4 separate regions of the Homo sapiens genome follow, and all the other regions are linked to region 2. The links come from fine-mapping of genetic effects on gene expression. A gene starts in region 2. Each other region holds a variant in brackets. All regions are shown on one strand. Distances are from middle to middle. Region 1 has its middle 13 kb from the start of LINC00622. Region 2 holds the start of ZNF697 (zinc finger protein 697). Region 3 has its middle 29 kb from the start of LINC00622. Region 4 overlaps ZNF697 (zinc finger protein 697).

Evidence for each region.
Region 1: its variant is fine-mapped to the expression of ZNF697 in whole blood (TOPMed, PIP 0.98).
Region 3: its variant is fine-mapped to the expression of ZNF697 in whole blood (INTERVAL, PIP above 0.99). The same link has a PIP of 0.9 or more in neutrophils.
Region 4: its variant is fine-mapped to the expression of ZNF697 in cerebellar hemisphere (GTEx, PIP above 0.99).

Annotation. Positions count from the first base shown.
Region 1 is chr1:119,583,173-119,588,619 of GRCh38, reverse strand. No RefSeq gene overlaps it. Among named protein-coding and RNA genes, the nearest start is that of LINC00622, 13 kb to the left of the region's middle. The variant C/T (reference allele first, on the strand shown) is at 2,579.
Region 2 is chr1:119,645,552-119,650,998 of GRCh38, reverse strand. ZNF697 (zinc finger protein 697) reads left to right here and starts at 2,733. Exons shown (of 3, transcript NM_001080470.2): 1 at 2,733-3,308. LOC124904389 (a long non-coding RNA gene) reads right to left here and starts at 2,683. Exons shown (of 2, transcript XR_007066506.1): 1 at 2,612-2,683; 2 at 2,023-2,275. RefSeq lists enhancers at 2,656-2,725, 1,897-2,737 and silencers at 2,796-2,855, 3,153-3,316.
Region 3 is chr1:119,568,054-119,573,500 of GRCh38, reverse strand. It overlaps the pseudogene HSD3BP4. Among named protein-coding and RNA genes, the nearest start is that of LINC00622, 29 kb to the left of the region's middle. The variant C/T (reference allele first, on the strand shown) is at 3,332.
Region 4 is chr1:119,618,906-119,624,352 of GRCh38, reverse strand. ZNF697 (zinc finger protein 697) reads left to right here. Exons shown (of 3, transcript NM_001080470.2): 3 at 237-4,976. The coding sequence ends at 1,648. Among named protein-coding and RNA genes, the nearest start is that of LINC00622, 22 kb to the right of the region's middle. The variant G/A (reference allele first, on the strand shown) is at 2,673.

The DNA of each region.
Region 1 (5,447 bases), 62 kb after region 2:
AGCAGCAAGAGAGACATTGGAAAAGCCAATGCTGAAGCTATTCATTTAGAGAGAGACTTTTTTTTCTCTAACCTTCTTTTTTTGTTTGTTTTTATGAGGCAGGGTCTTGCTCTGTTACCCAGAGTACTGTTGTGCAGTGGTGCGATCTTCAACTTCCCAGCCCAAGAGATTCTCCTACCTCAGTCTCGGGAGTGTCTAGGACCACAGGTATGCACCACCATGCCTGGCTAGACTTTTAACAAATTTTTAATTCTGTAGAGATGGGGTCTCCCTATGTTGCCCAGGGTGGTCTTCAAATCCTAGGCTCCAGTGATCCTCCTGCTCGGCCACCCAGAGTGCTGAGACTATAGTCGTGAACCTTCATGCTCAACTATCTCTATCTTTGATGTGAGTGAGCCTCTGCCCACATTCCAATTAAAGAAACTGTACCTGATTGCCATGGAATTTTTGAGGTTTGATTAGTTTAAGCAATAGATTTTCTTAACCTTGGAGAGCTTTTCTGTTTGTCTTTTAAATGTAGAGAGCACTTACTTGAAATGAGGCCTAAGTACCTGTAATTTTGTAGAAACTCCCTGGGTGATTTTAATGGGCAAAGAGGGTGAGAACTCTTTAGGACCAATTAGGGACCCCCTTTCTTTCTTGGGGATTACAGTAAGTATAATACATAAGGCTCAAATCCTCTCCTTCACCAGAATTATGGAGGCAAAGGGCAGTGCAAGGTACATCAGGCTTTGTCTGCTCCTGGTAGGCCACCTTTCACACAACTGCTCCAAATAGTGAAGACAATATCATAAGTAAGAGCCAGGAAAAGTGCCTGTCTTGGCTGTCCATCAGATGACAATGGAATAGGTGTGGAAGGCTGCTGCTGGCCTTCACCGTCTTCACCACTCAGAGTCAGCCTTCTTCTGCTTCTCTCAGATCTTTATTCCCCCAACTCAGCTCTCTTAACAAAGCAAAACCCCAGGCATGACTTGTTTTCTCAGCTGCCCTTGGCAATCACATAATTTCCATCCTCTCTGCCCCTGGTGGGAGGGGAGGAGCATACTTGGCCAGTCTCCAGCATGAATTGTCTAGTCTTTGCTCCTCGGTCTCATTGTCACAGCCACAAGTGCCCTGCAGTTTTCTGCTGCCAGACTGTGGTTTCAAGGTCATGTTCACTAACCCAAAGCACATTCCAATGGGTTTCAATTTCCAGCTGCTGCCATGAGATCCAGGCCATTTTCTCAGTGCTCTCTGCATCCAGTGGGTGCCCTACCTCAATCCGGCAGCCGGGATTGCTTAGCTTTGGAAGCCAGTGAGGTGGGTGGCAAGTTGTTCCATATACCATGTTTCCCTCTGTTTAAGAAGTTTGAAAAAGGTATCAGTGTTTGTGCGGTGTTCAAGCTGGCATTCCAGATGTGTTGAAGATGTTCAACACAAGTGAAAGAATTGACAGGCCCCTGTTTCTAGAGACTAGGGAATCACTGGAAGCAGTTCCATGCATTCTTTTTATTCACTGAAGACACTCCACTGAGATGCTTTTCTGAAAGCATCAAGGGCTGAAGTAGGGAGTGGTTCTGCCTGGGTGTTCTGATACCATCTGTGTATGACTGGCCTTCCCCAGACCCCAAGGCTGTGACTCATTAAGAGCAGAGACCCTGAGAAGTTCACCCCTCAGCTGAGTGGCATGTTCCAGGCATAGTGCTCAATGCTGGGGAGACAGATATGAGAGAGGTAGAGATGCTTACACATTCCAACACCATTTAAGGGCGAAGGTGAAGGCTGATTTTGTTTCCTGCCTGTCCAACCTGCTTGGGGTGAATTATTTTGCCAACTGTATGTATGACTTTAAGGATTTGGCCCCTGGGGCTGCAAGGGATGGGAGGTGGACAGGGGGGAACTTCATGTCAAGGCTTCACATGTTATGCTAGGGCAAGACGGTACATTCAACAAAGGCTCAGAGTTAAGCAGATTCTCTGCCAAGGACTTTGCAACTATAAGTCAGAGTTTCCACCACTGCTGCAAATCAGGCAATGTCGACTGTACCTGGCTTTGTTGGGTGAGGGAAGGGACAGTGTGTGACCTTGGAAAAGCTAATTCACTTTGTCAAGGGGCTGGAAAAGTATCTGGCTAGACATTTCTCTTGTTAGGGGTAGCATTAGTGAATGTCTGAAATGAGGGTCACCTCAAGGTTTCACCTGAAGCAGCTCTACTGCTTTCTGTGTTGAAGTTAATAGAGTAGGTAGAAATCACAGACATGACTTCACAGCCTGAGATTCACTGGACTGATACAGCCACTGTTCAATGCTGCTGCAGCCTAGACCAAGCCCTATAGGTATTCTTGATCTTGCTCTCATCTGTGCAGTGGAAAGATGCAGGTATGAGGTGTGGGAAAATCAAATCAAACAAAATGACAAACATGAAGGCTCTTGTAAGATTCACGGGCTTGTGTGAATGTTAGGAAGCAAGGTGGTTACAAGGTGGTCGTGCTCAGTGCTGCAGAGAAGGGGCTGCTGAGGGGCATCCTAAAGTCTTGTATCATAGCTCCTGGGATCCCAGAAGGAGGAGAGAGGCAGTTGCAGTGCATATGGACTCTGTC[C/T]TCTGGGATTTCCAGCTCCTAGGGCAGGGTGAAGAGGAAGTGAGAAGGCATGGCCTCCCTTTCCTGAGAACAGGAAGAAAGAAGGAACTAGTTCTGCTCCTCCTTTGAGGGTGTGCTGTGTGTGGAGTGAGCAGGGCAGAGCTTTGGCATTAACTGGCAGTGGACTTGAGCAAGGCATGACTTTTCTGGGTTTCTGATTCCTTTTCAGTAGGCACTGACTCTATTGGTCCTGCCCATTTTAATTTCTAGTGATTGTCTAAGAGTTTTAAAACCTTCTTGGGAAACATCTATAGCTTAATGCCAAAACAAAAGGCTGTATTTAAGTCAGCATTAAGTTCTGCAGTTCAGTGGTCATCAGATATCAGGGAAGGAGGGAATCGGTTCCTACTTGGCCCACTTCTTGATCCTTTACAACCCTATGAGAGGTATGACGCCCCTTTTCCAGTGAGGTGCCATGTGCCACTAGAGCCACGAATGACTGGGAAACCACTTTCTCAAATAGCTTTGGCTTCACACAAACAAATAAGCACAAGGAGGCTTATGTTATTACGAAGTTTAGTGGCAGAAGTGTGCAGGTGCCAGAGGATGCAAATCATCTTACACTTTTGCAGCCCAATGTCACTGGCAAAAGACCTTAGAAATGAGCCATAACCTTCATTTTGTAGGAAAGAAAACAGACCCAGGAAGGTGAAGAGATTTGCTTAACTTCGATGACAAAATTGAAATCAGAACCCAGGATTTTCACTCTTCACTCTTATTTGCAAAAATATTCTTCTTCTAAAACAAAAGAATACTCGCTTGTTTTTTGCCCTCCTTGACCCCTTTCCTTAGTCCCTCTCACCCCCAACTACTTTCATTTCTTTACCATGAAGCACCTGCCTGTCTCCATTTATGCAACATCCACGTCCACAAGCTGATGTTCAGATGAGAGGTTGGGTTATATAGGCAAGATAGATGGTTTAGACAGCAGACTTCTCATTAAACCTACCCTCTGCCCTGTTTCCAAATGTCTCTCATCCCAGTTTTTTTTCCCTTAATAAATATTTTACCTCAAAGGTAGCAAATCATTGGTCACCATTACAGACAGTTGTCTAAGTGAACGTTGGAAAGGTCATCTCACTTCCCAGGCCTCAGTTTTCTCATCAGTAAAATGAAAGCAGGAAAGGAACCCACAGTTAAAAGCTGGAGTAATGGTCTCTAGATCCCTCTTTAACTTCAATTTAATAAAAATTTTAGAGATGAAGTCTTGTCTGATGTTGAATTCCTGGATTCAAGTGATCTTTCCCCTCAGCCTCCCAGTAGCTGGGAATACAGGTGTGCCCTACCATGCCTGATGAAACTTTCTTTGCTCTAAAATCTGAACTCCACAAAGACATTGATCTGTCCTGTAGGAGTCAGGAAGCCTTTTCTATTTAACCATGCTAGGTCAGCAATAGGTGTTTTGCCTGCTGCTGAAAGAAGTTCTCTCAGTCAGGACTGCCTGTGTATTTTACAGGGATCAGTGCAAAATGAAATGTGGGGTCCCATGGCAGCCCCTTAAGCCAAGCACAGGCCCTGGGTGACCTCACCGGCCTTGTGCCCAGAGAGCTGCTCTGCTCAGAGCTACACCAGGGATTTGACAGACTCCAGCTAGTGCAGGAGGGAGTTAGTGCCAGGCTCATGAGAAGGGTATTCCTACTTTAGTGGCCAGCGTTCATGCTAAGATGACAATAGGCCCGGAACCCATATCACGCCCACCTCTCTGTCGCCAGTACCTGTTTTGGAAGAAGGGCTGACTGCATCAGTGCTGGTTCTTCCATTTCTTGAGGAAAGATTGCGCTCTTCAATAAGGAACTTCAGGTTTCCAGAACAGATTACTGACTGTTTTGGAGTCTGCAACTGACCTCAGTGCTCCCTGCCTTTGGGGACAGAGTGGCTAAGCCACTTTCTTTTCATCCAGCCTTCCCTCTCCACTTCCTCATAATGAACCTCTTTCATGCCTCAGATCACCGACTCCATTCCCTGCTCATTACCATTGGGTGGGATCTTGGGCCAAGATAAAGAAAAAGAACGCCCCTCAATTTTCCACCAGAGTCCCCTGATGTCTTAAGAAGCACATGTAGACAGAGAGGTTGCGTGGTCCTCACTTGAGTCAACTAAGAGTGGGAGATTCTCTTCTGAATTCATTTTTCAAAAGCAGTTTTTCCTTTTTTTTGTAGTATAAAAATGCTCTGGGCCTTGCACCATTTCAGGTTTTGGATCCAATTCCCAGTCCCTTTATAACCTTGGCAGCTGGGCTTCGCCTTCAACAGCCTTTCCCTTTCCCTGCTCATGGGCCTCTCACAACCCCACTCTCTCTTTCTATCACACAAATGAGTTCATTCTCAGCACCATACCCACTATGTGGCTTATCTCTTTTCCAGCTCTCATCATGATGATCGAGCTTCTTCAGGTTCATTGACACCCTGAAAATTTGTCTTTGAATTCTCTCTTGCTTTGTCATTGAAAGCATTGTGCTCCCTGACTCCCCATCCCCTCCTCTCTCCGTCCTAACATTTGAGTTTGTTGGTGTTTCATCTTTCTATCCGTGCATCCATCTATCTCTCCATCAGCCCATGTGTCTATTTTGTGTCAGTCACTGGGGACAGAGAGATGACATGGTGAGTTACTGTCCTCAGGACATGGCAGTGTAGGGGTGGGGGACAGGATATATAAATAAAAAATTAATGGCAGTGCAACTAGATATGCACAAAGCACAGAGGCTATAAAAGAGATGCTTTGGATGGTGAATAAGGAGCTGGGAAGGATGTGCTGGCAGGAGAGCTGGGCACCCTCTAAGCAGAAGGAATGCCGTGCACTGGCCTAGGTAGATGTAAAAGCATGCTGCAAG
Region 2 (5,447 bases):
TCTCAGCTACCACCCTGTTCAGAACCAAATTTCACATACTACATGTCTTCTTTACCGTCTGTATTTCCTCCCTCCCAAGCCTTCCTCTGGCCACTCCTGTCCACTCCTGCCACTCACTGGAACAGAAGGCTTATGGAAAGAGCCCCACTTTTACAGAACACGAACCCCAGTATAAGGCAGCATTATAGCCCTTAAACACTGTGAAGTAATTTTGTGACATCTGTCTTTTCAACTGGAGTGTGGGCTTCTTGGGGGTAAGACATAGCTGGTAGTTACTCAGTAAAATATCTTACTGTTGAATGTTACATGTCTACTCCAGACATGGAGACTAGCATGAATAAATGTTAAACAAAACTTTGTTGAAGTAACAAAATAACTGAGATTGGAAACAAAAGGATGGGACAGGTTTGGAATGGCGTGAAATAATGAGTGAAAGTTCAATTATTCTGAGCTCAAGTTAGAAGTGTAGGAGAAGGAGGAGAGTGTGTTGTATTAAAAGCAAGGCAAAAAATAGTTTCAATGGGCAATGTTATATGTTAAATGCTACAAGCAAGTATATCATGTTTTTCAGACTGAACACTATTAGAGGCTACTTGATTTGCAAAACAATAATCAATTCTTTGGGGTGGAGATGGGGAGATTAGTTTCACTGGAATGTTACCAGGTTGAGAATATGAAGGAGCAGTAATTTGTAGGGTCCAGAAAATGCAAGGATCACAGCACAATTAATTTAGGTGGACAGTCAACAGAGTGGGCATACAGCAGGACCTTTAGGGTGGGCATACAACAGGAACTTTTGGGAGGTGAACAGTCCTATCTGCATGCTTCTCATCAATTCTACATTTTAATCCAGGCCATCTTATCCGTGAGGTTAAGGATCTCTAGAGAAAGAGAACTCTAGCATAAACTTTACTTAAATGTAAGCTAAACCCTTCACCCAAATGTTTTAATCATATGGATTTAAAATGTGAAATGACAAGTGGAAGTGACACGTAATTATGACCTTATTTTTTGAAACAGAGTCTCAATCTGTCACCCAGGCTGGAGTGCAATCACGGTTCACTGCAGCCTCAAACTCCCAGTCTCAAACGACCCTTCCACTTAAACGACCGAGTAGCTGGGACTACAGGTACGCGCCACCACACCCGCTATTTATTTTATTTTACTTTTCGTAGAAACAGGGTCTCACTGTGTTGCCCAGGCTGGTCTTGAACTCCTGGGCTCAAGTGACCCTCCCACTTCGGCCTCCCAAAGTGCTGTGATTACAGGCATGAGCCACCAAGCCCAGAGACTTTTCTTTCTTTCTTTCTTTTTTTTTTTTGAGACGGAGTCTCACTTTGTTGCCCAGGCTGGAGTGCACTGACATGATCTCAGCTCACTGCAAGGTCTGCCTCCCAGGTTCATTCCAGTCTCCTGCCTCAGCCTCCCGAGTAGCTGGGACTACAGGTGCCCGCCACCACGCCCGGCTAATTTTTGGTGTTTTTTTTTTTAGTAGAGACGGGGTTTCACCGTATTAGCCAGGATGGTCTCCATCTCCTGACCTCGTAGTACGCCCGCCTCGGCCTCCCAAAGTGCTGGGATTACAGGCGTGAGCCACCGCGCCCGGCCTCCCAGAGACTTTTCTATCTGATTACTTTTCAAACACATTCTAGAGCATCCTAGAACTTGTCCTTTCCTAGTTCAGTTTATTACTTTCTGCTCATGCTCCAGGAGAGAATATAGCTTTTAGTCATTTAGTCTCTATGTGGTCCTTCCTTGATTTTCTAAGGGTCCTGAGTCTGTGGTCCCAGAAATAGACAAAAACATGTGCAGGGCATCATAGACTCTTGCTAGGCTGGAAGTAGAGTTCCTCTCTTGTAGCCAATGTCCTCTTCTCCTCACCCTTCCACTCCCGAAATACACACACTCAATATACAGTGGCCAGCACATCTGTTTTATGGGACCAAGAAGCTGAATCCTAAAGGTTAATGAAGGAAAGATACGCAGAAAGTCCAGCACTTTCCTAATTCAGCAGCACACAGGTTTTCACGTCTAATATTTAATTTACGTAATTTATTTTCAATCTCAATTTAATTGCTTTTCTTGAAAAGATGTTTGGGACAAGGTCAACAATGAGGGAGGAATGTCACCGGGTCGGGATCTGGAAACAATCAGCTCTGTATGGTTTTAAAGATGAAGCGCCAAGATCTTAAGGAACCTGAATTCCTGGTGAGCAATCAAGTTCTTTAATCGGCCCCCAGCAGGATGTCAACGGCGTAAAAGACAAAAAGAAAATCTATTTTAAAAGATAGATTTTGTGTTTTTAGATTAATTTTTAAAAAGCGAACCCACCACAAACTTCCCAGTTTTTAAAGAAAAGGCCTCTCCCACCGCAGAGCCCTCCCGAACCATGGGACAGCTCAGCGGCAGCGTCCCACCGGCTGCCCGCAACCGGTGCCGCGAGCTCGGAGTGCAGCGCTGGGATCTCGCGTGCTCCGGGACAGCGGGCTCCTTGAGCGCCGCGGGGCGGGGCGTGGGGCAAGACCCGCCGGCCGCTCCCTTCCCCACAGCGCTTAGAGAAGCAGCGAGCGCCTTTCCTCCTGTCCCGGAGTCCTAGCCTGGCCCGAGCTACCTCCAGGGCGCCCGCTGCTGCGGTGGCAGGAAGTCCCCGGGAACTACAAATCGAGGCATGCTGGGAACATTCTCCCGCTCCTCCCAGGAAATGTCCTTTGTCCAGCCCTACAGGAAGCCCCAGTGAGGAGTCAGCCGGGCAGCCAGCCAGCGAGCCAGCCAGCCAGCCAGCCAGCCAGCCAGCCAACCAGCCAGCCAGCGGGCCACCCAGCGGCCGCTGCAGCCGCCGCCGCCGCACAAGGGCAGACGCGCTGCGGTGCGGGGCTCGGGCCGGGGCGCTCGGTGCCCTAGCTCCTCGCCGCGCCAGCCGCCTCGCAGGTAGGAGCGTGGCTGTGGCTGGGCTCAACCGCCTCCCGGGGATGGGGCTGATCGGGACCAGACCCGACCGCTGCGGGGATGGGGTGTGTGTTCGAGTGCGGTGGCGGAACGGCTGGGCGAAGTTGTGCCTCGTAAAGTGGACCGTTGTCCGCTCCCCTGGGGCGCAGGGCCCCGGGCTTATGGGGTGCTCTCGCGCCCCCAAAGCCAGGACTGAGCTCCCTCAGGGGTATGTGGCGAGGGGCGGGGAGGAGGAGGCTGAGACTTGAGGGAGGAGACAGCGATGCAAGAGGGAATAGGACCGTCCCGCCGACCACCGAAGGGGGCATCAGAGACCCTCGGAGAAACCAAGCCCAGGGAGGAGCTTGGAAGGCAAGGAGAAGGTGAAGGGCTTTGTGTGCAGCTGTGGACCTTGACGGACTGCGCTCCCCTTGCCTTGTCTGTTCGTGCCTCCAGCCCCACTGGGGCTAAGGGAGGGTGGGGGGCTCCGAGAAGGGCAGGAGAGAGGCGGCAGGTCATCTTGGGTCCTAGTGAATGAAATGTGTGCCTCCCTTTTCCTCTCTTCTCCATTCTAGCCCACTCAAATGAGCGGCTTTGGGGCTGCCATCAGACCGGGCAAATGACACAATAAGGACGGGTGGGTGGAGAGATGGGCAGCAGCTCGCAGCCCAAGAGGGGTGGCCGTCTAGCCCCGGGAGGCATTCCAACCACACGTGTCCATGTAGGTAGGTGGTGGGGTGGTGGGCAAAGCTGGAACCTGCACCTCGCGGGGATGCCGAGGCTCAGGATTGTGCATGGAGGCACGGGTGAGGCGCGTGTTGGGAGGAGTGGGTGAGTAAAAGGTTGAGGGGGAGCAGCGACACAGAGGCGCTGAGTGTACCTTATGGCCAATGTACATTATGGCCATGCATCGGGAACTGACTACCACTTCCTCTGGGACTTTCCACGATTTTCCTTTTTCCTAACCGCCTCCCCCAACCGCCCCCGCCCTGCCTCCCCCACAGGAGTGAATCACCCACCCCTTACTACATGAACCCTGGGCTGAATTGAAGTTGGTGATGTATCCCTGTCCTTGTAGTGGGCATGTTTGTCCTTAACCTGTAGGATGACACCAATACTCCGCATCCCCTACTGCGTTACCCTCCTCCCTCAAGACTGAGCGTCTGGTAAATGCGGTTGGATAATGGCTAGCGAGTTAAATGTCTTTGAGTAGCTGTGGTGGATGAGTGGGCAACTTTGAATACAGTCCAAGTGTGACTGTTGTAACTGAACTCAGCATGCCTAAGGGGCCACACTCACTATCTCTCCTTTCTCCCCTCACCTGATTTTTTGTTGATGCCCCCAACTGTTTACCTTCTTCTCTCAACAAGCCAACATGTGGATATTATTTAATGTGGAATACGTTTGAGGAACCAAATGAACCTTTAAGAATGCCACTTATATGGCCAGGCAGGAGTATGCAAGGCTCATGGTCGAAAGAATGATGCTGTAGGACATGGAGAGAGCCCTGAGCCTGATATAAATGGCTTTCGAGGTGAAACAAAACATTTCTTCCTTAGCTTCTTTGGGAGAGATGAGGCATTTGAACTGAGATAAAGAATGGAATCGAGAAAAAAAACCGAGTTGTTTAGGATGAGGCCATGAGGATAATGAAGTGAAGGGAAGAGGCTCTGTGAATTTAGATGATTTCTAGTTAGAACATATTGGCCGTGTGTGTGTGTGTGTGTGTGTGTGTGTGTGTGTGTGTGTGTTGGAAGTGGGGGTTGTTGTTAAGGGAAAGTTGATGTCAAAAGTTCAGCCATGCCCAACAGAGAATAAGATGGCATCCTATTGAACAAGATCATAAATATGAAGTCAGGCTGCCCTTTACATTACACAAAGGAACACATAGATGGCTTTTCAGAACTACTGGGATAGAGGGGTAAATGGATGCTAGTCAGACAGAAGAACCGGCTGGATTGATGCGGCTGGATTGAAGTGGTAAATAGTGACCTCACATCAGCAGCATGACTAAGGCTCATGGAGTTGCATCACATTTCCTCTCCCTCCCCCACCAAAACTCTTTGAATTTCCTCAGAATCTACATTTTTTGCCTAATTACTAGTGTCCTGTGAAGGGAAGGAGAAAGGGTAAAGGTTGGTTGTAAGGATGATAAACTAAGGCAAGAAGGAGCTTGTCTGCTTATGTAGAAAGAAAAAAATAGCTACAGTGTCAGTAAGAGGTCTGGAGCTTGAACCTATGTCAGTACCATATGGGCTTTTCTTTGTATCTAAGATTCTACTTCTTTTTTCTTTTCTTTCACCTGCCCCTTAACAGGTTTCTCAGTACCACACACTATGTAGAGTTAATATAATCAACAAAAGTAACTCCTTACTTTGGGATTTAAAATTCTTCACAATTCAGTGCCTACCTACCCCTCTCCTTTACTGGACCTGTGCCACCCCAATTTACCTACCCATCCTTCGAGCAAATAGCTCCCCAGTCCTTGAAGATGCAACAGACATTCTTCTACCTCCGTGACT
Region 3 (5,447 bases), 77 kb after region 2:
TTTGAGTGTGTTTTCATTGATTGGTTAATGACTATGTCATCACTGAAGTCCCCAAACTTGTCTTGATTGGCCTCCTCTCTTCAGGGAAATTGAGAAGAATGAGAGAACCAGTGATTAAAGAGGAGATGGAGAGAAGAAAGAGGCTAAGGATATGGAAGAATAAAGGAAGAAAGGATATGATTTAGAGAAGAGAAGGAGAAAGAAGAGAGAGACAGTTAAATCTGGGGATGTGGGATAGTAGACTTCTAATTTTGGGCTGAGTAGAAGGTATATTTTGGAGGAAGTTCACACTTGTTTTTTGTACTTGTCCAGGAACCCATGGTGTGGCTCATTGTGTGATTTGAAAGGGTGAAATGCAGGGTTATGTATGATCAGAATGGCCAACACACATATAGCCAGGAGTGTTCTAGAGACCTTCAAATAAATTGACACTGAAGCGGGTGGAGGCCTGATGCATTTTTGTTTCTCTCTGCCCTGCTCAGGCCCATTAGGAAAGGCATGCAAACCCTTTCAGATGCCCCTCAGGGATTATCCTTGGTTCTAGAGATTCCCCTGTACCAGATTGGGCAAGAAAGAGGTAACCCCAAAAAGCTGGGGCTCTCCCAAGTATCAGCATCCCATGCTCCAGTGCTCTGCTGTACCACTGATAAGACCAGTTCAGGCTGCATGATTCTAGGGAAAGATAAAGTCTTTCAAGACCAACTTCCTGGTAGCAGGCCTAGCCACTAATCATTAGTGTGATGGTGAACAAGTTTCCTTAAGGGTAAAATGGGAATAGTCACCCCCACGTGATAGGTTTCTGATAAGTATTGAGTGAGGGAATATATGTCACATGTAGGTCATGTTGTAGATGCCTGAAACATAGTAGAGCTTATTCAGTCTTCATCGCCCTTCCAGATCCTCCCACTACTCTGCCAACCCCCCTTCCCCAGCTCCATGCTACTCTCCTAGGTAAAAGATGGTGATACCTGGAAATGAAAAGAAAAGGAGGGAACTAGGTATTAACAGAAACTACACCTCCCTCCAGGTTAAGGATTAAAACATTTATTGCTCTTTACATTGGACTGCGTGAAGAAATAGGAGATTTAAAAGAAAAGAAATCCTTTCTCATTTAAGAGTAGAAATGGAGCTCTAGTAGTTAAAAATGACCTCAAGTTAGAAGAGACTACAATTGTTCGGAATCAGCCACTGAGATATGGAAAAAGCAAATCACATTGTCTTTCCTCTGGTATATGATTAGGACAAAAAGCTTCTGGTTGGGCCAGGGACTGGGCAGGTTTTGATGACATGAGGAAGACAATAAGTTGGCTATTATGTGAAAGGGAGGCAGCAGGACCTGGACTTTTGCCCTTGTCACCTGTATGAAGCCAGGAGGATGGAGCTTGACGACATCTCCTAACAATACCCACATGCACATCTCTGTCATCCTTCGATCACTGAGTCTTGGACTTCAGGGTCTCCTTGTGCCAGTCCACAAGGGAACCAACCCACTCCATGGTTTTCTGCTTGGCTTCCTCCCAGCTGTAAAGTGACTTATATGCCAGATCTTGCTGAGCCTTCTTGTAAGAGAAGGTGAACACGCTATTTGACAATGTCACTCTGTGGTGGTTGAAGGGCGGTCGACAGGTGTAAACTGGCCTCGGCAGGAAGCTCACTATTTCCAGCAGGAAGCCAATCCAGTACGTCAGGGATAAAGGCAGGCTCCAACTGGAATCAAGGCAGAGGCCGAACTCTTTGCTCAAGGTGTAACTAAGGTTATCATAGCTTTGGTGAGGCGTGTCATCTGAGATATAGTAGAACTGTCCTCGGACACTTGGGGCCTTCTTGGGCTCCCGCAGGGCCCTCAAGGCCAGAATGTGGGCCCAGGCTATGTTGCCAACATAGACTGGGTTGACTCTGGAGAACTTGCTGAAACTTGACAGGATTCCATGGTTGTTTAGGGCCTCATTTATACCGGCAGAAAGGATTGGGCTTCCTTCCCCATAGATAAACATTGGTCTTACGGCACAAGTGTACAAGGTGCCACCGTTTTTCAGAGTCAGCCCATTAGCCGCCAGCACAGCCTTCTCAGCAAGCTTTTTGCTGTGTGGGTATGGAGCGTACCATGTGTTTTCCAGAGGCTCTTCTTCATGACCGTTCTGAATGATTTCCTTGTAGGAATTGGGCCTGGCTACCTCTAGGGTACTGGTGTAGATGAAGATTGGCACTGTAGCTTGGACACAGGCCTCCAACAGAAGCTGGGTACCTACCTACGAAAAGCATTCTGTCAGTGTCAGGAAATATAACTAAGGGGCCCCAACAACGTGCATAGATATTTATTCCCAAGTGCAGTGGTTATAACAGACTCGGGGTATATTCTTATGTGACTCTGACTGAGACTGGGCCATGCTACAGCCATAGGAAAAACACCAAAATGAAAAGAAACTGACATGTGGGTTCTGGGGAGCAAGAATTTCTAGACTTTTGGGTATATGGATGTGTGTGTCTGTGTGTGTGTGTGTATATACTGTAATTTTGGCAAAGGACCTAGAATTATCACTTTATATTCTGTCAAGTAATGATGTTGAAAAATTACAATGTGACATCAATACCATTAATGGCAGATTATTGAAAAACTAACAAATCAGGAAGATATACTCTGAGAATATGGACAGTCCCAGTCCTTAGGCAGAAAAGGGCACTGGAAGAATTTATGTCACACACACACCCATACACAATTGTATATAAGCAATATACACTCTGAAATGTACTCTTAAATATACATATAATTGCTGGTATTTTTCTCATTTTGAGTGGACTGGTAAAACTTTGTCACCAGGACCATTCCTGGAGTCATTGAGCGAACAGTGGCTTGTGGGGAGATGCTGGAAACCCACACTCTTTTCCTGATTGTGCATTCCCTGGGAAAGCTGCTTCCAATTCTGGCTGTGACTCTGTTTACCTGGTTATGTAAAGTCGGGGTGATAAACCTTCCTTTAAACCCTGCCCTGGCGTTTCCTGTGGAGCCTGGTGGAGGACTGGGGAGAGGAGTGTGCCCTCTGCTGGTAACACCTGTACTGGGAGGACCTTGCCGCCTCCCCTGAGCTGTGTGGAAGCGAAGCTCATGGAGGTGTTCGGAGTGCCTTCCCTTGAAGAAGGAAGGAATTTCCTAGGCAAAGGATTATTATTTTTTCTTATTTTTTTATTCTTGGCCCTGTTTAAAGTCTCTGTGGAATTTGAGTTTCTGGAGAGACAGCCTCATGTTTTCAACAATTAATCTGGTGGCAGAGAAAATGCGGAAGTAGTTTACCTTCAAGGGGGAAATGACCAACATTGTGAAATATTTTCTAAG[C/T]CTTGGAGTGATAATGGTTAGGAAACAGATGCCTCTAACACTTCCCCTGTCATTTCACATTTCTTGTTGTTGGGAGCTGCGGAGAGTTAACAATTCAAATGAAAAACTGGTTACTCTTAACACCCTCCTTGCACTGTAGGGGTACTGAAAGAAATGAGCGAGTAGAAACTGGAAAGGTTTTTTTCTTTCTGTTTCCTTCCTTCCTCTCTTTCTTTCTTTCTTTCTTCCTTCCTTCCTTCCTTCTTTCCTTCCTTCCTTCTTTCCTTTCTTTCTCTTTCTTCTTTCTTTCTTTCTTTCTTTCTTTCTTTCTTTCTTTCTTTCTTTCTTTCTTTCTTCTCTTTTTTTTTTGGTACTGGAGACTCAAAAGCAATTAGTTGCATGAGAAAAGGCATCAGAGTAGACTGAATGTGGAGGGCCAGGCCTGTGGTTGGGTGCTATGGTGCTGAAGAGACTGGACTCTGGGAATCAGAGGGTGAGACTGCATGACGAGATTCCTTAAGGGAATGTGTCTGAATTTAAAGTAGTTTGGGAAGCTGCAATTCGGAAAGACCACCAAGCTTTTAAGGGACGAGGATTGAATGAAGGTGCACTTTGGGCACCTAGTTTGAAATGGTTCTGTAATAGCAGGCCCTTTGGTGAGCTGAAGAGATCATATTCTGCATACTGGGAAACTCTTTTTGTTAAGAAAATATTGTGAGAAAGCATGTGCTGGATAATTCTGTCCTGACAGACCTCTGAGAACCAGCTTTGCTAGTTCTCTCAAGAGAACTTCTTTGAGGTGGGCAGGAGGGCTTTGAATGTTCTTGATATGGGAGTGCTGGGAAGGGAAGAGTGTGGTCCCTTTAAATGATATGAGAGCGGGGAAGGGAAGTGCTGGGTGAAGGAGGGTGTGGTTTCTGGCTAGGGCTGCACCCTCAGGGACCTAGATGAGGACAAGCATTTTCTGCCCAAATGTTGCATTTCCCAAGACCACCCTGGCCTGCCATGCTCCCATTCTCTGCCTATAAAACCCCCCAATACCCTAGCAGGCACATGCACAAGCTGCTGGACATTGAGAGGAGCAGATTGGCAGAAGAAGACAGAAGGGGCTGGATGTCAGGAAGGGCACATCAGTGGAGGCACACATCAGCAGAGGAACACATCAGCAAAGGAATACACGGGCAGCTGGACTTTGGGAGGAACATACCCATGGGCAAAATGATGTGGAGTTTGTCTGGGGTGGTTGGAGAAGAGTTGGGTCATTGAGCAACCGACTCCAGGGGAAAACCCTCCCCTTCTGGCATCCCCCAGCTGCTGAGAGCTACCTCCACTCAAAATAACCTTGTACTCATTCTCCAAGCCCAGGTGTGATCCAATTCTTCCGGTAACCAAAGCAAGAACCCAGGATACAGAAAGCCCTCTGACCTTCCAACAAGGTAGAGGGTCTAATTTAGCTGGTTAAAACAAGCCGCCTATAGATGTCAAAACTAAAAGAGCAAGACTAAAAGAGCACCATGTAACACACACCCACTGGGGCTTCAGGAGCTGTACAATTCACCCCAGACACTGCCATGGTGTCGGAGTCCCACAGCCTGCCTGCCTGTATGCTCCCATAGAGGTTTCAGCAGTGAGGCACTGAAGAAGCAAGCCACACCCCCATTGCATGCTTGGTGAGGGGGGTGAGGGAATTTTTCCCATTTCATTATTATAAGCCTACACACAAGGTTTAAAATGATGACTATGGTGGCACCTGGAAGGTTTGATTCTGTCCCATAGAGGCAAAGAGTGGCTGAATATCAAGAGTCTGAAGTTGGAGTTTAGTTGACTTTTGACTGGAGCCACAATAGAGTGTCCACAGCCTTTGGAGTCACACAGGGGTGAGTTTAAAGTCTAATTCTCCTACTTACTTACTTACCTGGGGGGCCTTGGACAAGTTACTTGCCATCTGTAGCACTGGTTTCCTCATGTAAAAAACTGAAGATAGCAGCTTTGAACTCCCCCAGTTGGTAGTGATCAGCAAAGACACTTGGTCCAGAGCATAGCAGGTGTTCAGTGGAGAGACTTCTTTTCCCTTCCTGTCCTTCTTTGTGATCCTTAATTCCCCACCTTGCTTCATCTCCTCCCCAGGCTACTGTAC
Region 4 (5,447 bases), 27 kb after region 2:
CCCGAGGAGGCTGCCTGAAGAACTGGTGGGCAGAGGGGGCAATGAGTGCACTCTCCTTTAGGCCTTTCCCTGGAGGATCCAGTTGAGAGAGGCTAAACTCTCAGGGGGTCTTGGAGGGGCAGGGATCCAGAGTGCCTGAGGGAGGGGATCACAGTTTTATTACTGAGGTTTCCTCTGGGCTTATCTTTTGAATGCCAAGTATAGTAATCCCCCACTGCCACCTTTTTCTGTTGCAGAGGGGCAGCTGAGTGAGGAAGAAGGCGTTTCTGTCCGTGGGGAAGAGGATGACCAATCCGGTGTAGCTGACATGGCGATGTTCCCAGGACTGTCTGAGTCTGACAGCATATCCCGGAGCCTCCGGGAGGACGACGACGAGAGTGCTGGGGAGAACCGGCTGGAGGAGGAAGAGGAGCAGCCGGCCCCTCCCGTACTTCCCTGGAGGCGACATCTCTCCCTGGGGAGTCGGCACCGAGGTGACAAGCCCGCCCACCGCCGCTTCCACCGGCTCCACCACCCCATGGCCGTGGACCTCGGGGAGCTGGATAGCCTGGTGGCCAGCATCATGGACGCGCCCACCATCTGCCCCGACTGCGGGGAGAGCTTCAGTCCTGGCGCCGCCTTCCTGCAGCACCAGCGCATTCACCGCCTGGCTGAGGCCGCTGCCGCCGCCAGCCTGGAGCCCTTCGGCCTGGCGGGCGAGTGCGACGCGATGGTGGGCATGATGGGGGTGGGTGTGGCGGGGGGCTTCGGGGCCGGGCCCCCGCTGGCCCGGCCCCCGCGCGAAAAGCCCTTCCGCTGCGGGGAGTGCGGCAAGGGCTTCAGCCGCAACACCTACCTGACCAACCACCTGCGCCTGCACACGGGCGAGCGGCCCAACCTGTGCGCCGACTGCGGCAAGAGCTTCAGCTGGCGCGCCGACCTGCTCAAGCACCGGCGCCTGCACACGGGCGAGAAGCCCTACCCGTGCCCCGAGTGCGGCGAGGCCTTCAGCCTCAGCTCGCATCTGTTGAGCCACCGGCGCGCGCACGCGGCGGCCAGCGGCGCGGGGGCGGCGGCGCTGCGGCCCTTCGCCTGCGGGGAGTGCGGCAAGGGCTTCGTGCGCCGTTCGCACCTGGCCAACCACCAGCGCATCCACACGGGCGAGAAGCCGCACGGCTGTGGCGAGTGCGGCAAGCGCTTCAGCTGGCGCTCGGACTTGGTGAAGCACCAGCGCGTGCACACGGGCGAGAAGCCCTACATGTGCTCCGAGTGCGGCGAGACCTTCAGCGTCAGCTCGCACCTCTTCACGCACAAGCGCACGCACTCGGGTGAGCGGCCCTACGTGTGCCGCGAGTGCGGGAAGGGCTTCGGGCGTAACTCGCACCTGGTGAACCACCTGCGCGTGCACACCGGCGAGAAGCCCTTCCGCTGTGGCCAGTGCGAGAAGCGCTTCAGCGACTTCTCCACGCTCACGCAGCACCAGCGCACGCACACGGGCGAGAAGCCCTACACGTGCATCGAGTGCGGCAAGAGCTTTATCCAGAGCTCCCACCTGATCCGCCACCGCCGCATCCACACGGGCAACAAGCCGCACAAGTGTGCGGGCTGCGGCAAAGGCTTCCGCTATAAAACGCACCTCGCGCAGCACCAGAAGCTGCACCTGTGTTAGGGGCTGGGTCCGCGGGAGGCTGCCGTCTGGGGAGCCTGTGGGGGGTAGATATCCTGGGACTGACCCAGGGGAAGGAAGTGGGGAAGGGGCGGGAGGGACAATCTGAGAGTGACTGGGGAGCCTTTGGTGTTTGGGGTTTCCTGAAGTGGGAGGAGTGTTGAGTAAGTTGGTCTTTCCCGGTGCTATACTTGCCTCCTCTCCACGGAAGAATTGTTCAGGAGATGCGCTTGGGGTGATGACTTCCTTAAATACACGCTGTAGGGGGTGAAGAGCTTGGAGGACCAGGCACTTTGAGGAAGGGCAGTTCGTGGGCTGGGGTGGGAACAGGATGGCGGGCAATAGACTAGGGTAGGCCGCGATGGCCTGTAGAAGGTTGCGGGGAGAGGGTTTAAATGAGGGTTATGGGGCGAAATAAAACCAAGTATAAGTGATTCTATCTTGGTCCCACCAAGAGTTTGCCCGATCTCCACACATCACCTGTTGTCTCACAAAAAGTAGGGGAACCTTGTCAGTCACATAGGACAGGATATTTAATGTACTTTTCCTTTCTCTGAGCCACAGTTAGCTGCTATTTTGAGGCATCCAAGGGGAAGTGGGCTGAAAAACGCCACACTCATTTCAAGGGGCAATGTCTGGGGTTTAGAAATTCATTTATAACTGGTTCTCTGATGTGGGAAATCCTGATTCTGTCCCGGGTTCTTTGCTACTTCCTTGAAAATACTCTAGCTTCATGCTGGGTCAAGGTGGTTTACCTGGATGACCCCCCTCCCCCGCCCTCGCCCATCCCAGGTGTGTGCCACACCCAGTATTTCTTTCAGGTCTCAACTGTGGTGTTTTAAGTGCAGGGAAAAGGAACAATCACAGCTATGTGTGACTTTCCTTTTCCCACCTCACCTTGATGTAGGTGTTTCAAGTGAACTTTAGACCAACAGTTGCCCAGTGACCTGCTAAAAAGTCAACTAGCTCAGAGTTTTGCTGGCCTTTATGTGAGAAATCCAAGAAAGTGTTCACTTTTTTGGGATGC[G/A]AGACTCCTTGGTCTCATTTGCCTTCACTTTGCATTTGTTAGTGACCTCCACTAACCCCCACTTCCATGCATATTGACGAGGGATCTAGTCTAAGTAAGAATGTCTTTTGCCTGCGCGTGGAGGCACAGTAGAAATCTCAAGGCTTTACCCAGAAGAGCCCAGTCAGGGAGAGGTGTAAATGCAAAATTGCCAAATAGCACAAACAATGAATGTTTTCTGGTTGTTATATAGATGCCAAAATAGCACTTTGATATTTGCAAAGTGCTTTATGCTTTTTAATAATTGTTAGCTGTTTCTCACATCATTGTGAGTTAGATCAGTATTATGACCGCTGTCTTAGGGAAGGCCTGGGAACAGGAGTGTGCAGGCTGTCCTGAAGAGAGGCTGAGGACAGTGTGAATAATTGTAGCCTGACCTTTTGCATTCTCCAGCTCAGCTGCTAGGAAGACTTACTTGTCATGATTTATATAATAAAATTAAGGACACTGAAAATTCTTATGCTTGATGAAAAACTTAAGGCTAGCCTAGAAGGGCCAAACATGTCCTTATTGACAAAGCTGGTCTTTGTCGCCTAATTAGGGTATCCTAGCTATGTTCCATTTCTAGTAAGGGGCTGTAGTTAGATGACTCTTGTATAGATTTCAGTTACTTATGCTGAAGATCCCTGTGCTAGGTTAGCCTTTAGAAGTTAGAGTTGTGGAAAGCAGTATTGTTTTCTTCTCTAGTGATTGTTACCCTACACATTTCATGGAAGCATCTTCACAAAATATCAGACACAGTGGAAGGGGGAAAAAAAGCTACGAGATTGTTTTTACACTTTTAGCAAAGTTTCTGTGGATGCTAGTAATTTATACTTGATCAGTTGTATTCTAGTAAAGAACCTCTTTGGGGACTGTAGGAAAGCATGTTTTTGTGGTTATAAAAACACTTAAAAATCCTGATAATTCTGGGCTTGTATAATGCCTGTTGATCTTGCCCTCTTAATCAGTTTATTGTTATTCACAAATGCAAATAGGTTTTCAAACTACAGACAGTTTTGAAAGACATTAATTCTCATTTTCTTCTAGTCAGGAGTAATACAAGCAAACAAGTGTCCGTTTTGAATTCTGATTTGTAATCTGAATACTAAACATATTAGACCCACCTGAAAATAATATAGCCAATTTCTAGGTAATCTTACTGCTTTGTGGGTTTCTTTCCATGTACATCTACCTCTTCCAGCTGTTTTAAGTTTTCTCAAGTCTGTGCCTATGAAATCTCATCCAACTTTTGATTATTCATGGATTGATTATCCGCTTTTTTTTTGCTTTTTTGCTGCCATTGCTATGCCTGGTCTCGTCTGCATCAAATATACTACATATCAGCAACTTTAGAGAATGGGTTCAACAGGGAGTGGAGAGTGAAGCTAATGTAAAATAGTTTAGTGGCAGTGGGAATCTTTGGACTTCATTTACCTCTCTCATTATTTCTATTACCATGGATAAAAAAGTCAGCTGCTACGTTGATATCCCTTCTATGAGCACATTCTTAGCAGAAGAAAACAATCCAACTACCAACACCCGACTCTATTGGTGCATTTAAAATGTGATTCCATTTTTTCTTACAATTCTTCAGGGAACTTACCTGCATTAAGTGAGGTTAAATGCATTCAGGAGGTTGTTTGTTTCTTCTATCTAGTTTTAGAATAATATTTCTTCGGCAAACCCTGCTAACTGCGGTTCACCCTTGAAAACGTTAATCTGAGGACTTTTTCCACCAACTCATTAATGATGGTGGAAGCAAGTGTATTATTTGTTTCCTGGAGAATTTGATGAAGAGCAGTCTTCCTCTGCTGCCCTTTACTAAGCAAAACCTGGAGCAATTTAAATAGGCTAAATGGTTTTGATTAAATCTTGAGCTCCGAGTTGGAAGGAGAAAATGAGAAGTTAACCCCTTGAGCCATGTGGTCTCTTTACAATCAAGAGACTGTACATATGTGAAAAAATACAAATTAAGGACCTGTGTTCATAGACAATCTAAACTGTGTTTCTGAAGTTTGTGCACATTTTTCTTCACTGTAATGTTATTTTACAGCTGTTTGTTAAAATAGTGAATAATTTAATGATCCTAAAAGTAACAGGTTTCGTGTGAGTGTGCTTGTATACGTGAGATTTGCCTTATTTTCAGGTTGTTTTATTTAACGATGGTTCCTTGGACAGCATTCTGGTGTTCAGCAACCAATATGGAATATTTGTCATTAAATCCATATCAGTCTTTTACCATGTCATTCTTCTTTGCCACACATTAAATGTCACTCAGCTCTATCTATGGAAGCTATGTTCTTGTAGAACAAGGGTTGACAAACTACTAAATCTGCCCTGCATATTTTTGTACATAAAGTTGCATTAGAATACAGTCATACCCATACAGGCACATTTGCATATTATCTGTGCTACTTCACCCTGAATTTGCCGTGAGTGGGCCTCTGCCCACATTCCAATTAGAAAAACTGTACCTGGTCAACCTGGAATTCTTGAGGTTTGATTAGTTTAAGCTACAGATTTTTTTAACCTTGGAGAGCTTTTTGGATTGTTTGCCTTTTAAATGAAGAGAGCAATTAATTGGAGTGAGGCCTAAGTTCCTGTAGTTTTATAGAAACTCCCCAGGTGATTTTAATGAGCAAACAGGGTTGAGAACTCTGTAGGACCAATTAGAGACCCCCCATTCTTTCTTGGGAATTACAGTAAGTATAATAATACATAAGGCTCAAATCCTCTCCTCCGCTGGGGGGTATG